2 linked regions of the Homo sapiens genome follow. The protein of the gene in region 2 interacts with the protein of the main gene of each other region in a pairwise test. Each region holds a gene or a part of one and is shown on either strand. Other genes may lie near its edges.

Region 1 (7,000 bases), on a different chromosome or scaffold from region 2:
GGCCAAGCCCAGAAGTGGTCCGCAAGATGGGAGACAAGGTGGAGGCCCGGGCCATCGCCATTGCTGCGGGTGAATATAACGGGCAAGCAAGGGGTGGCCCCGCAGCTCCTGGAGAGGGTCCAGCAGGGAGGGGTGGCAGGGATTCCCGCCTGTTACAGAGACTCCCCCACACCTTTCTCCCAACAGGTGTTCCCGTTGTCCCTGGCACAGATGCCCCCATCACGTCCCTGCATGAGGCCCACGAGTTCTCCAACACCTACGGCTTCCCCATCATCTTCAAGGCGGCCTATGGGGGTGGAGGGCGTGGCATGAGGGTGGTGCACAGCTACGAGGTGAGTGAAGATGCCCAGGGCTGGGAGCAGGGCAGGGCAGCCTGCCGTGGGGGCAGGGGCGGACCACTCAAGGGATCTGGAAAGTGGGTGGGGTTCATGGCAGGGGAGAGGTAGCGCTGTGGGGTCTGAGGTCTGGCTGGCCCCTGCCCGCCCTCGCAGGAGCTGGAGGAGAATTACACCCGGGCCTACTCAGAGGCTCTGGCCGCCTTTGGGAATGGGGCGCTGTTTGTGGAGAAGTTCATCGAGAAGCCACGGCACATCGAGGTGCAGATCTTGGGTGAGTGGTCCTGACGCCCCGCCTGGGGCAGCTGGAGGCGGGAGCTGAGAGGCCCAGTCCTGGTGCCGTCACAGTGGCTGGCCTTGGGGACAGCCCTGGGGCCTGTCGGGCGCTTTTCCAGAGGACTCTGGAAAGTGGGCTCTAGGGGCCGAGCTGGCAGTTGGTCCTCACAGCCTTGGTGATGCTGGTGTCTCTCCTGGCAGCCTCTGTACCGCTGGCAGCCGGCACTGACTGGCGACAGTGGTTATGTGGGGGTGATGGGGCATTTAGGAGGCGTGTAGATTCCAGTAAAAGCTAAGCCCAGTTTACCTCCCTCCCCAGGGGACCAGTATGGGAACATCCTGCACCTGTACGAGCGAGACTGCTCCATCCAGCGGCGGCACCAGAAGGTGGTCGAGATTGCCCCCGCCGCCCACCTGGACCCGCAGCTTCGGACTCGGCTCACCAGCGACTCTGTGAAACTCGCTAAACAGGTGAAGGGTGGGCTTCCCGTGTTGGGACAGGAGCCTGTGCTCACAGGCCGGCAGGCCTCACAGTGGGGCGCTGGTTGGGGAAGGGGACCCTGAGTCCCCTTCTGGGGACTGGGGATGGGGAGAAGAGGGTGAAGGACTCTCCTGGGGGCCAGAAGTGGGTTTGTGGCATCCTTCCCATGTGCAGTTGAGGCACCTGGCCCAGAGGCCAAGCTTAGAGTCCAGGATGGCTGAGAAGAGGGAGGGAAGGAGCCCCAGCCGCCTCCTCAGCCCTGCTGCTACACAGACCTGGCTTCTCTGTGGCATCAGCTCATCCCTGTCATCAGGAGAATGAGATTCCGTGGATTCTGTCAAGATTGAGGACCATTATGAAGGCAGTCCTCCCTCATGTGCTTCTGTCTCCTACATCATGTTTATTATGATCTGTTTCCTTGCTCTGCACCCTCTGCCCATCTCTGCTTTTCTGGGACCTCTGGTCGGGGGGTCCTGGGCTGTGGAGGAGGCTGAGGTGGCAAGCTATCTCCCCACAGTGACCTGCCCCAGGACTGGCCTGGAGAGCACCTGCTGTGGCCAGGTGTGCAGCGGGGTCCTGCCCCCTCTTCTTCCCTGGCCTATAGGCAGCAGAGGATGCGTCACCTCCCCATGCCGAAGGCCGGGGTGTGCACTCTGCAGCAAGGCCTCAGCCACAGCTAATGCGAGGCATCGACCAGGGTCGCGTTTAAGTCAGGTCTTATTTACTGGCTTATACTATTTCACATTCCAGAACAGGTTTAAGGGAGGTGATTCAGTCTGGTTTATCGTTTTGGTGAGACCAAAAGTGAAACTGGAATTAGGGCTGAAATTTGAGTTAGAGTCATTATCTGTTGGTACCTCTCAAATGAATTTCTTTGGGTGGTGGTGGCCAGAGGTGACTGCGCAGTAGACTAGAAGGGGACTTTCTGAAAACACCTCCAAGCAGAAGCAGCGGCTGGGAGAGGCCTGGGTCTCCGTGTCTGGGTGGATGACACAGCCTTGGCGGGCAAGCCCAGGAGGCAGCAGGGCAAGGTGCCGAGCCTGGGATGGGTGGGGGCTTCTGCCCATGTCTCGTCCCAGATAAGCTGGGTGCAGCCATCTGTGGCTCCGGGAACCCTGGAGCCTAGTGGACTACTTGGGGGACGTGTCCAGGCAGGAGCATGACCTGGGCCCTGGGGTCTGTCTGCCATCTGTGGGGGCAGGGTTTGCCACAGGCCATTCTTTTACGGAACCAACCCAATGGGTGGGACGGAATCCCTGTCCTGAGTCCAGTGAGTTTGCCCAGGCCCTGCCTGTGCCCTCCCCTGCTCACGTGGCCGCCCCCACAGGTGGGCTACGAGAACGCAGGCACCGTGGAGTTCCTGGTGGACAGGCACGGCAAGCACTACTTCATCGAGGTCAACTCCCGCCTGCAGGTGGAGCACACGGTCACAGAGGAGATCACCGAGTGAGTGTGGGCGGGCAGGCGGGGCGGGAGGCGCGGCTTCTAGGATTTGCATAAAGTACAGGCGAAGTGGCTCCTGGGGCCAGCCAGGGGGCTTGCTCACTCCCCACATTGGTGGAGAGCAATGGGGATCCAGGTACTTAGTGTTTTAAAAGTCATTATTCTAAAAGCATTACGTGGTTATTATAAAAATCAGCACAAAGGAGCAAATAAAAATGACTGACAGCCCTCCTCTCTGTCAGGACGCTGCCGATTGCTCAGGCCCAGGTGCTCCCATCTGTCAGAGGAGTAAAGCAAGGCTCAGAGACATTTGGAGAGTTGCTCGGGGTCACACAGCTGGCGCTGGAACCCAGGCATCTCCGGCTGTCTTTGGTTTGCTCCTTTCCCGGTTTACCTGTTTTACTAGAGACATAGTTTGATGCAATAGAGATGTTTTATATAGAATTTTTATTCTACTTTTCAAATTATTTAATATTTGTTGAAGGCATTTCCCCAGGCCATAATTCTGTCTGAATACTTTTAGTGGCTGCGTACTATTCCGTCTTGTGTGTATTTCTTAACTTACATAGTCCTCGATTGTTAGGCAATTAGTTTGTGTGTCTGGCTTTGGTGGTTATTAAGCGTGTCACTTATCATCTGTGTGCCTGAATGTTTGGCTTCAGCTCTGAAGAGTTCTGAGGGTAAACCCTTCAACAGGATTATCTGATTGAAGGATAAGTAGCATCCCTCGGAACAGCCCTCTAGAGAGGTGGCACTAGCGTGCTCCCTGCAGGCACTGAGGATGACATTTTCAAAATCCGCCTGGTTTCTAAATGACAGTCATGATGGCCCTCACCCTTCAAGGTCTCTACTATGAGCCATGTAATTTCTTGACGCTGCTTTGGGCCAGCCCATCTCACTGTGGAGCATCCCTGACCCCAGTTCTGCCCCCAGCCCCAACCCCACCTGAGACTGAGGATGCTGTCGGGGTGGCTGCTGTGGCTCGCCGGGGGCATGGAGGCCCCTCCCTCCCCTTAGGAGAAGCTTAGAGACAAGGCCAACACTTTGGCCGAGTGAGACTCTTCCCCTCAAGCTGCTGTGAACTCCTCGGTCTTGGGTCTGCTTAGAGCGTCCTGTTAGGGATGGGAGTCTGTCTGCTGTGGAGCACGGGTTTTGTGTCAGACAGATTGGGGCTCAGGTGCTCTCAGGTCCCAAGCCACGTGGAGCCTGGGTGAGCTCCAACCTCTCTGACCCTCGAGCTCCTCCTCTGGTGGGAATGACAGGGCTCTCAGCACACCGTCGTGGAGATGAAGCATGGGAGGAGTGCAGCCTGGCCTGTGGCACTGAGTGGAAGCTGTCATCTCTGCTGCGAAGTGGGCCAGCAGGCAGCAAGAACACGGGGAAATCCTGCCAGTGTAGGTTCCAGGCTGCCTTCACCACAAGCCTCAGTGGCAATACATGTAAAACCTTGAGTGGTTTTTTTTAAGACATAGTCTTGCTCTGTCACCCAGGCTGGAGTGCAGTGGTGCAATCTTTGCTCACTGCAACTTCTGCCTCCCGGGTTCAAGTGATTCTCCTGCCTCAGCCTCCTGAGTAGCTGGGATTACAGGCACACACTACCAGGCCTGGCTAATTTTTGTATTTTTAGTAGAGACAGGGTTTCACCATGTTGGCCAGGCTAGTCTCGAACTCCTGGCCTCGTGGGATTCACCCACTTTGGCCTCCCAAAGTGCTGGGATTACAGGCATGACCTGCTGTGCCCAGCCTGGTTTTTTTGTTTGTTTGTTTTGTTTTTTAAACAGCTGTTCCACTTGGACTTGTGACTGCCCTTAGGAGCAGTAAGGCTGAGCTTGGAAAACCCTGCAGAGGTGGGGAAGCTTGCACTCTCCAAGCATCTCTAGGGGGTTTTGGGCACAAGTCCAGCAGGAAAACAGGCCTCAGAAGGACAGGTCCTGACCCAGCACCCACTGTGCAACCCTCTCACAGCTGTGGTTACCATTTCGAGGAGCCCAGCCTTCACAGCACCTGTTCCCTTGCACACTGCCCCCCTCACAACCACCCACACAGCATAGCACATATGGCCCCAAGAATGTGCTATCCTGGCCCTCTGACCTAGAGATCTGCTGAGGCTTCAAATCTAGGCTTTACCAAGGGGGAGTTTAGGGGAGTGGGGAAAACAGACCTCAAGGAAGGAGGAGGCAGAGTACAGGGAGGAGCAGCTTAGGGCTGTGTGGACGGCACCGTGAGTCAGGAATGCAGGAGCAGGTGGTCCTGGTATTTCAGCGGGCCATCTCCAGCTGCCAGGCACTGTGTAGTTTAGTCGGCTCCCGGCGGGAGCAGGGCAGGGGCTGGTGGAGCCACTGGTTGGGAGGAACCGGCTGTTCAGGCTGGCCCAGAGCCTATGGGCAGGAGTCGCACTGTGTGTGGACGCCCCACTGGCTGCGGTGCCCCTCGTCTATCCCCCGCCTCATGTTTCCCCCTTTCTCCCGTCCTTTCCCCCCTCCCCCCAATGCCCTACAGCGTAGACCTGGTCCATGCTCAGATCCACGTGGCTGAGGGCAGGAGCCTACCCGACCTGGGCCTGCGGCAGGAGAACATCCGCATCAACGGGTGTGCCATCCAGTGCCGGGTCACCACCGAGGACCCCGCGCGCAGCTTCCAGCCGGACACCGGCCGCATTGAGGTGGGCGGAGCTCGAGCAGAGGGAGATGCCAGCTCACCTGTGCACAGGTTCTGCCTGGTGCCTGGGGCTGCAGTGCCAAGTTGCCACAGCCCGGCAGTTAGGGAGGACCCGCATGTGGGCTCTGAAGTGGACATAGAGTACACGGAGGCAGGCAGTGCCCAGAGGAGGGGCGGCGCCTCCCAGGGGAAGAGACTGCTGGGCGCCCAGGTCAGGAGGAAGCCGTGAGGGTGGGAGCGGGGAGCAGGCTGGCTTGGTGGAGCAAAACGCAGGGACCCAGACACAAAGCCAGCCCCTGACCCTCCAGCTCCCACAGGAGCCCCACGCCTGGCTGCCGACGGAGCCCAAGCACCACCTCCCATCTGAGGGATGGGCTGACATGGCAGGACCTGGGGGTGGGGGTGGCAAAGGACTGGGCCCAGAGGTCCCAATGGAGTCTGAGCCAAGCTCAGGGGCCCATCAAGGATGGGGGAGGGAGTCGGAGATGGCGGCACAGGAGGGAGACCGAGAGGTAGATTCGGGGCCGCGAGATGGCAGCCTTGGTGGGGGAGAGAGTGGTGTAGGGGGCGCTGAGGCGGTCCACGGCAGGCTCCTCAGCACAGCAAGACTCGCGCCTTCTCCAGGAGGGCTCCCTGTACCTTTCTTCCTCTCAGCACCGGGACCCAGTCATTGGCCTCCGAAACCCATCTCCCCCGCCTCTGGTCCCAGCTGTGGGCAGGAGCCCTGCGGCCTGCTCGGTGCCTGTTCCCAGCCCTGCACGTGCTGCCAGCACCGTGCCAGCTGTGCTAGGGACTTGCTCCCTATCCAGGGGCCTGAGCCCCAAAGGAGGCAAGACATTGATGGAGCTCCAGCTTTGCTCCAGAGTCCAAGGCAGAGGCCCCCGGGCTTGTGTGGGGCGGTGAGGGGAGCAAACATGAGTTTGGGCCAGGCTCTGGGCTTCTGAGACAAGGGAGGCTGGGGAGGCTGGGGGTAGGGACCAGAGCTCTCTGGATTCTGGAAGCAGCAGAGCCTGTGGCTTCAGCAGGGAGCTGGCCACCTGCCTTCTGTTTCTGGAAGAGTCTGTAGGTGGCGGCAGCCCCAGGCTGAGTGCTGCCCGGCGGCCCCTGACTTCTCTGCCTCCCTCCATCCCCACTTCCAAGCCCTGGCTCTTCAGAGCCTGCCTCATCACAGAGTATTTTTAGCCGACAGTTTCTGCTCTCAGCTGAGTGTTCACCCTTAAATATTTTATGAAGTTCCTTTTTATTGAACACAGGCCTCTGCCCCCGAGAAGCGGAAATGGGCAGTGGGTGTCCCGAGCCCCTCTGGGCGGTCCCCCCACTCCCCTTCTTCCTTACCTGGGCCTGACGGGTCCCCCACCTCCGGGGAGCCCTTCTCTGCGGGGCTCACTCGGGCGGCACGAACAGGTGCAGGCGGCACGAGCCACCTGTGTGTGTGAGTGTCGGCGCCTCTGTCTCCTCCTCTCCGCTGCCCCTCCCATTGCCGTCTGGCCCTGGCCCTGTCCCGCTGCCCCGCTGCCCTCTCCTCGCCCTTGGTTTGCTTCCCTGATGGGTGTGGACCCTGCCTCTGGCACTTTCCCTTCATTTCCTCTCCCACTTCCTCCTCGTTGCCTCCTCTCCCTCCCATCCTCCCTTCTGGAAGGAAAGGAAAGGAAAGGAAGGGAGCATGGGTGGATGTTGAGGCCTTCCCCACCACCCTGTTAAAAACAAAAACAAACCCCCGGTCAGCCTTGCCTCTTGCCTCGCACATGGTCCTTTGGAGGCCCTGTCGCCGGCCTGCCGTCCCCTCGCTGTCTGGGAGCCCACGGCG
Region 2 (8,436 bases):
TGAGAAACCTCCTCCCTCTTTTTGTTAAAGACTACTTCTTCAAATACGTTGGAGAAAAGAAGGAAGGGCATGGAAAAGGGCAAACATCTCTTTTATTAACTCGATTATTAACTCCACTAATTCTCTCTGGCAGGGTCCAAATCTGGCCCTCTGATGTAGGATGTCTGGCTTCAGCCTAGCTTCCTTACACTTCTTCAGGTCCCCAGGGATGCAGAGGCCTCCTCTGCTATGGCCGCTTGACCTTGGAAACTCATGTACCCATACCAGATCCACTGATGGGAATGTATACAGCTTACAGCCACCCTGTCTGTCTGGCTCTCCCTTTCCCATTCTCTTCTCTGCTTAAGTACACATACCTATAACTGCTCACGCTGAGGAGGGGAAAAGAATGCCCCCCAGTCTTTCCTTGAGGACACCATAAGCCTTTAAGAAGGAGTAGCATGCACCAAGAAGAGGGGAGGAAAAAGCCACTACATTACCCAGTAGGCCAAACCATGGTTCCAGCAAATTTCCCTGCCTCTCACTAGCTCAGCCTTCTGGAAGGGGGTGGCTGTGGTTTGTGGGGTTGGCAGGGCTGATTCTACTTTCTGAGGTAGATGGCAAGCCCCACTTGTTTGGTGACTTCCTGATAGTGTGGAATAGTTAACGTATCTTTGTCCTGAAGTTTGGGACCCTGATGACCAATTCTAGGGCAAACATCCTGTTACAAAGGCAAGAAATTAATGAGTTAAATGATGAGTTTATTATAAAATTATGGTCAACACCCTACAATTATATGTTATAATATTTTGTATAATATGTAGAGCAATACTAATCAAACAAATAGTTATACTAGTAACTTTACCTCCTTCTCCTTTCCATCTTACCTCTGCCTAAATGTCCCTGGTCAGAAGTCCTTAGTCACCGACGGGATTTAACTCCAAACTCCTTTTTTGACATTGATAATGCTCCAGTCCTTATTTCTGTACCCAGACCCTCTGCTCCCCCAGGTCAGGACACTTGGGCCTGCTGAGTCCAGCTCACACACAACTCTGCCTTTGGTCTGACTCTGTTTTTTGTCTGAAATGCCTACCTACTTTCTGTTTGTCTAACTCCAGGCTTTCCTGTAGGTTTGCCTTTCAAGCCACTGTGCACTATAAGGCCTTCCAGAACTGCTCTTCCTCTGGATTTCTTAGCACCCACATTTCACCATTAGCCTAAGCCGTCTTCTCTTTCAGCGTTCTCTTTTTCTTCCCGTACTCTGTTACCTTACTAAATTATACATCTCTCAAGGACAATAACACTTTTCTTAAGCTTCTCCGTAGTGTTATGCTTGTTCAGTGCATATATGTTTGCTGATGGCAAAGAATAATATTTTGGAAATAATTTCATGATTTAAAAATCTAAAAGATATTAAGATATACTGAAAAATAAGTATTTGATTATTTAAAATGTTACAAAAGAGGAAGGTTTCCTACTCCCTCTCTGCATCCACATTTTCATGGAACAAAGGCCTAGGTATAAGCTGATTTAGATTTGCCCCCATCTAGAAATTTAATCAAAGTCTTAGAGCTGGAGAGAACATCAGGGTTACTGAGTCTCCCTCTCTGCCTTAGGGTTCAATACAAAATTTAACACTGTTTGATTTGGAACTAGGGAATGGTTTGGGGACAGTAAATGTTGAGGCTAATTAGGTGATTTAGATAATCCAGAGTCTGTGTAAAATTAAAATCCTATTTGTAGTGAGACTCTGAACTAGCTTTCTCAGCCTTTTGCTCTACCTCCTGCACAAGAATATGACTCAGAGCTGGGAGTAATGGCATGCTTAGCCTTGGATAGCTGTCCTCCTCTGCTTTCAGGATCCATTTTCATTACTCTATCATCTTCCTCTTTCTTTCTTTTCTTTTCCCTTGTTCCCCTAATGTATCAATTGGAAAGTATCTAGCATTTCATGGTACAATAGAAAAGGAAGTGGACTAAAAGGAAACCTAGATTCTATTCCCATCTTTTTCACCAATTATGTGATCTCAACCACCACCACACCACTCTGGGCTTATTTCTTTGTTGATAGAAGTGGGGATGAAATTAGGTAATCATATTAATGTCACTGGTTTTTGTATAGACCATTATATGTAACCGTTCACTTAGTTATTGGCGTACCCACCACATTGTATCGTGTGAAGTATAAACACTTTTTTTCTTTCTTTTTTTCATAAGGTTATAGCTCAGCAAGTGTCAGATAAACACTTGGAAGAGGGTCGGCTTTATCCTCCTTTGAATACCATTAGAGATGTTTCTCTGAAAATTGCAGAAAAGGTAAAACCACTCTTGTTCAAGCTTCATTATTTTTCCTTCCTTTTCTTGCTAAATATGCATTTTTAAATATTAAAAATCTGCTTCCTTGAAATGTATATCTGTATCAACTTACTATGTCAGAAGTCAGAGAAATGAGGCACACTGACACTGTAGAGCTTAGGAGCTACATTTGCTTCTCAGAGAAGAATGGAAGTATTGGGCCGAATAATTAATTTCCCTCTCTATCGTTCTTTTTTTCTCCTAAAATTTAAATAATTCATTAGGGCTTCCTGTCAGCCAGATTTCTCCCATTTCACCTTTTTAAAGTTGTTCTTTTCTATATCACATTAGTGATAATTAACCAAAATATTACAGATATGTTAGAGTAACATTTAGACCTTGAACCACCTTCCATATCCATGTCACTATGATGTGTGGCATCATAAATGACAGATCACAACTGATAATACTGGGCGGAAGGCAAAATAAAGAGGTCAAAGAACTTGAAAGCTGTTTGGGTGGCAGATGAGCTACTGAAGGAGTTAGCCAAGAAGAACCCAAAGGCAGAGAAATTTTCTGTAACTAAACTGGAAGATAAGTGGACTTTTTTTGCAGTGTAATTGTATTAGTTTTCTTGGGCTGGGATAACTACATACCACGGTTATGTAGTAACTGTTTTTAAATATTCAAGCCACAGACTGTGTGGCTTAAACAACAGAAAACTATTTTCCCATAATTCTGGGAGCTAGAAGTCTAAGATAAAGATGTTTGCAGGTTTGGTTTCCTCTGAGGCCTCTCTCCTTGGCTGGCAGATGGCTGCCCTCTTTCTGTGTCCCCATATGGCCTTTTCTCTGTGTGTGTACACGCTTGTGTGTCCAAATTTCCTCTTCTCTTAAGGACACCTATCAAATTGGATTATAGACCATTCTAACCGTCTCATTTTAACTTAATTATCTCCTTAAAGGCCTATTTCTAAATACACTCACATTCTGAGGTACTAGTGGTTAGGGCTTCAACACTGAATTTGGGGTGGGAGGAACACAGTTTAGCCATGACAGTAGTTATATGTTTAAATTGGGGTTTCTCTACTTCAGCGTTGTGGACATTTTGGGTCAATAACCATCATGCGGCTGTCCCAGGCATTGTACAATCTTCAGCAGCATTCCTGGCCTCTGCCCACTAGATGTCAGTAGCATCTGCTCAGTTGTATCAACCAAAGCTGTTTCCAGACATTGTCAAGTATCCCCTTGGGGGCCAAATTGCTCCAGATTGAAAATCACTAGCTTAAGCTATTAGCAAGTTATCTAAACAACACCATTTAAGAGTCACATATCATTATTTATCTCGTTGACTGAAGGCAGTCTCTTAAAAAAAGAAGTAATTCTCTAAAAACCTTTACATAATAATCTGCTTGGTTATCTATGAAAAAGTATGTTCATATATTCTACTAATATGTATCTGCTAGTTTTTAAGTAGTTTAAACTATTAATATACTGAATAGCATATTATCATTTTAAGTTCATTTTGGAGATTTAAATGAAAAAGAGTTAGCTTATGATTAGAGGGGAAAAAAAGCAGGGGACAGCAGGGGAGTGCCAAAAGATTCAGATATCACACCTAGAATAATGGAAGAATACAGAGTGCATACACAGAAATTGAGAAACTAGAACAAAGAACCAACTTCAGAGAGGGAGATCATGTAAGTGGACTGCAAGTTTGAGGTATCAATGGCACATTCAAATGTACCATTTTATCAAGTAGATAGAAATGACTGAAACTTAAAGAGAGGCTAGATAAAAGACCTGGGCATCTTCTGCATGTGGTAACTGGTGAATATCTAGGAGTGGGTGAGGTTGCCAAGAAAGCAAGTATAGAAAGGAAATAAAAATGAGAATAGAATATAGTTTATTATTCTGTCTAGAAGACAGAAGAAAGATGCCAGTTAAGAAGAGAAGTGGTCAGGATTTTAAGAGACTCCAAACTGAGCAGCATGTCAATAATTAGGAAAGAGACAATTTCAGAATGGGAGTGGAAATTGTGACCAACACAGCCAAATCCTGGAGAGAAAAACAGATGCAGACTTTTATTTGGTACTTAACAAGTTATCAGAGACTTTTACAAAAGAAATTTCAAGATGTACAGGAGGTTCAGAAGGCAGAGAATTAGGAAAGCAATAAAATATAAGCCACTCTGTCAGAGAGTTTGGCATTGACAGGACAGAGAGAGTGAAGATTTCATTGGGAGAAGGGATTATTTCTATGGTATAACTGGGAGCAGAAAGAGGAGATGAATTTCCACATAGTCTATGTCAGTAATGAAACAATGTGTTTTATTATAAAATTAACATAGCCATCTTAAGTAGGCATGAGGGATCTTTTTGGGGTGATGGAAATATTCTAAAACTGAATGTGGTAATATTGTTGCACAGCTCAGTAAATTTACAAAAATAATTTAGTTGTACACTTAAAATGCTTGAATTTTGTGTGAATTATATCTCAATAAATCTGTTTAAAAAGTAATACTACCATATTATGGGCACTTTGGAAAACAAATAGAGAAAAGGAAAATAACCAATATCCTATTTTTCTAATATAAGTATTATTTTTTTTCCTGTGTTTGTTTTGAGTCTTTCGTTTGTTTATTTTCTAACATTATTATAATTATGAAATATACATATTGTTTCCTGCTTTTTCATAGACATTTCATAATACAGCACAGTATTCATAACCTTAATTGTTCATAAATGCATAGTTTTACATTGAGATGAGATAATCATTCTGATATTCTTTGAAATCAGACTTATCAAAATAAGTCAGTCATATAAATATTGTTTTAAGAACTGATGTGAATTCGGCTGGGCACGGTGGCTCACACCTGTAATCCCAGCACTTCGGGAGGCCAAGGCAGGTGGATCACCTCAGGTCAGGAGTTTGAGACCAGACTGGCCAACATGGCGAAACCCCTTCTCTTCTAAAAAAGTACAGAAATTAGCCGGGTGTGGTGGCAGGAGCCTGTTAACCCTTGGGAGGCTGAGGCAGGAGAATCGCTTGTTTTTTTGTTGTTGTTGTTTTTTGTTTTGTTTTGTTTCGTTTTTGAGATGGAGTTTTGCTCTTGTTGCCCAGGCTAGAGTACAATGGTGTGATCTCGGCTCACTGCAACCTCTGCCTCCCGGGTTCAAGTGATTCTCTTGCCTCAGCCTCCCGAGTAGCTAGGGTTACAGGCATGCACCACCACACCCGGCTAATTTTGTATTTTTAGTAGAGATGGGGTTTCTCCATGTTGGTCAGGCTGGTCTTGAACTCCTGACCTCAGGTGATCCACCTGCCTCGGCCTCCCAAAGTGCTGGGATTACAGGCATGAGCCACTGTGCCAGCCAGAGAATCGCTTGAACCCAGGAGGCAGAGGTTGCAGTGAGCTGAGATCGTGCCACTGCACTCCAACCTGGGTGACAGAGTAAGACTCCATCTCAAAAAAAAAAAAAAACTGGTGTGAATTAAATAGTATATATGAAGTGATTAATTTTGATGAAGAGAATCCATTTAAAGAAAGTAGGGAAAGAGAAGATGTATGAAGACACTGAGGAGATAGTCTGAGTTGGTCAAAAGGGAAATTAAGGTCATTTTCTCTGAGTAGTTGAAATTTTCTCCCATGATGTGATATGATGATGTGATTCTCCAGTGAGTGATGAGAGTCAAATGGAAGCTTGAAGATGGGGGAAGGTTTGGAATTGCTTTTTGGGAACCACAAGAGGAAGTTTTAAGTAAAGAGAGAAAAAAGTATAATGTGCAGACTAGAAAAAAAATATAGCACCACAGAAAGTTTACTGCATCGTTCTAGGATGCACAGCCACAAAAGGAGAAAGCCAGCTCTGAGGGGTCCCCAGACGAGGGACTAGAATTATGCATGAAACACAGGGCGTGATGACCAGAGAATCTGTGACGCTGGCAAAGAGTGCTCATCCTGACTGTGGTGTCTAGATGATTAGCTGAGCAAGATCAGGAGACCCTGGGGTACAGGAAGAGATTTTGTAGGAGGCTGTGGTGAGAATAGGGATTCTTGAAAATTCAAGGTTCAAGTTTAGCAGGACTATTTAGGTATTTATTTCAAGTTAATTGTCAGTCAGGTCATGTCAAGACTTTGAACACTGGCTTCTCTGAGAAATCCAGATGTGATAGTACTTGAATCAGTCTCACCTGGTCACACTTTCCTTAGTTGCTGATGTCATTTTTCTCTCTCACTATATGATTTATAATTGCATTTTCATTTTATATCTTCATTGCTTATATGTGCTTTTATTATAATACACTTAATGTTTTTGCAAACATAGGATACAGTGTTTTTGAAATGGATAAAAACTTCCACTCACATGGGCTCATGATTACCTCTATTTATTAAAATAATTAATATTCTTTTCTTATATCTAGATTGTGAAAGATGCATACCAAGAAAAGACAGCCACAGTTTATCCTGAACCGCAAAACAAAGAAGCATTTGTCCGCTCCCAGATGTATAGTACTGATTATGACCAGATTCTACCTGATTGTTATTCTTGGCCTGAAGAGGTGCAGAAAATACAGACCAAAGTTGACCAGTAGGATAATAGCAAACATTTCTAACTCTATTAATGAGGTCTTTAAACCTTTCATAATTTTTAAAGGTTGGAATCTTTTATAATGATTCATAAGACACTTAGATTAAGATTTTACTTTAACAGTCTAAAAATTGATAGAAGAATATCGATATAAATTGGGATAAACATCACATGAGACAATTTTGCTTCACTTTGCCTTCTGGTTATTTATGGTTTCTGTCTGAATTATTCTGCCTACGTTCTCTTTAAAAGCTGTTGTACGTACTACGGAGAAACTCATCATTTTTATACAGGACACTAATGGGAAGACCAAAATTACTAATAAATTGACATAACCAACATTAAAACTCATAATTATTTTGTTGACCATTTTGTTAAAATCTACTTTTCAAAAAAAAAAAGCTAGAAATGAATCTAGGCGTAGGTGAACTTTTGCTAAGCAGAAATAACACTACTTTGTTGCCTAGAGAAAGATAACTTCTCAAGTATTTTTATTCCAGTCCTAGATCATATATGTTCTTTTGTGCAACGGAATTCTAACAGTTCTAAGAGAAAGATCACTGCTGTTTACAGCGCCTTGTGCAGCCTTAGATTTTAATATTCTTTTGTCATTGTTACATCTCATAGAGTAAAGCTCTTATTACCTTGATCCTGAGTCAGAAATCCCACCTGAAATCACCTTTTTTCCCCCTTGATCAAACATCCCATCCTTCAGCTACCATACTGTTGCTACAGGGATTTTGTGGACTGTGGCCCCTGTCCCGAGGTTGGCACCTTCAGTTCAGCACAGCCTGAGCAGTGAGAAGGTCTGAAAGGAGAGTATATAGTTAAGATCCTTGAGAAAGGGCTGCCTGAGGAACTGACCTCTTAAAGATCTCAGGATCTTTAAGACAACAAGTTAGGTTCCTACTGGAGTTACCTGCCAGAATGGCCTCTTAATTAACTCAGGTAATGAAGAGCTAACTGTGTTATAATCATCTTGCTTTTGCCTGAATTTGGAGAAAGTATTATAATTAAGTTCCCAGTATCAGAAATGTCCTTACATAAGATTAAAATATCTTGATGACTAATACCATTCTATGAGAAAGAGTAGTTATATGCCCAGACTGTATTAATTTACTTTAGAAACTAATGTTTGAAGTAATGGAAAAAATTTTAAATTATAAAGCTAAGGTGCAATAACATTTGCTACTTATTTATAGAATTATTTGAAGAATTTTGTTTTTGAAGTAATGCTTTAAGGAGTATAAGATATTCAAGATAAATTATACTATAAAATGATTTTATTGAAAGTTGAAGGTTACACAAATTGTTTTAGGTATGAGCAGAAGAGGTTAAGGTATTTCTAAAGGTAACATATAGTCAAGAGTTTCCTCAAAATAGTTATTTGGAGAAGAATCAGAATGTCTGTGTATTTCTTGTCTGTTTCTATGTTGTCTTATAGCTCTGACTAAATGTGTTTACCTATGCAAAAGATTTATTAAAGCATAGAAAAGGTGAATGAATAAAAATATAAAATAATTGTCCTTTTTCTTAAAATGTTACATTGTAATGCTTGGTCTTGGGGTCAT

The links. Proteins that work in one complex are often made in the same cells at the same time.
Region 1: the proteins of ME1 (region 2) and PC interact in binary tests that used the Homo sapiens proteins (3 or more experiments, as listed by UniProt).

Annotation. Positions count from the first base shown.
Region 1 is NC_000011.10:66,864,384-66,871,383, reverse strand, and holds part of PC (pyruvate carboxylase, mitochondrial precursor), read left to right. Parts: coding exon 1-69; intron 70-186; coding exon 187-332; intron 333-491; coding exon 492-609; intron 610-930; coding exon 931-1,082; intron 1,083-2,419; coding exon 2,420-2,538; intron 2,539-5,034; coding exon 5,035-5,197; intron 5,198-7,000. UniProt on the Homo sapiens protein: Pyruvate carboxylase catalyzes a 2-step reaction, involving the ATP-dependent carboxylation of the covalently attached biotin in the first step and the transfer of the carboxyl group to pyruvate in the second.
Region 2 is NC_000006.12:83,210,357-83,218,792, reverse strand, and holds the end of ME1 (NADP-dependent malic enzyme), read left to right. Parts: intron 1-2,196; coding exon 2,197-2,295; intron 2,296-6,698; coding exon 6,699-6,869; 3' UTR 6,870-8,391; downstream 8,392-8,436. UniProt on the Homo sapiens protein: Catalyzes the oxidative decarboxylation of (S)-malate in the presence of NADP(+) and divalent metal ions, and decarboxylation of oxaloacetate.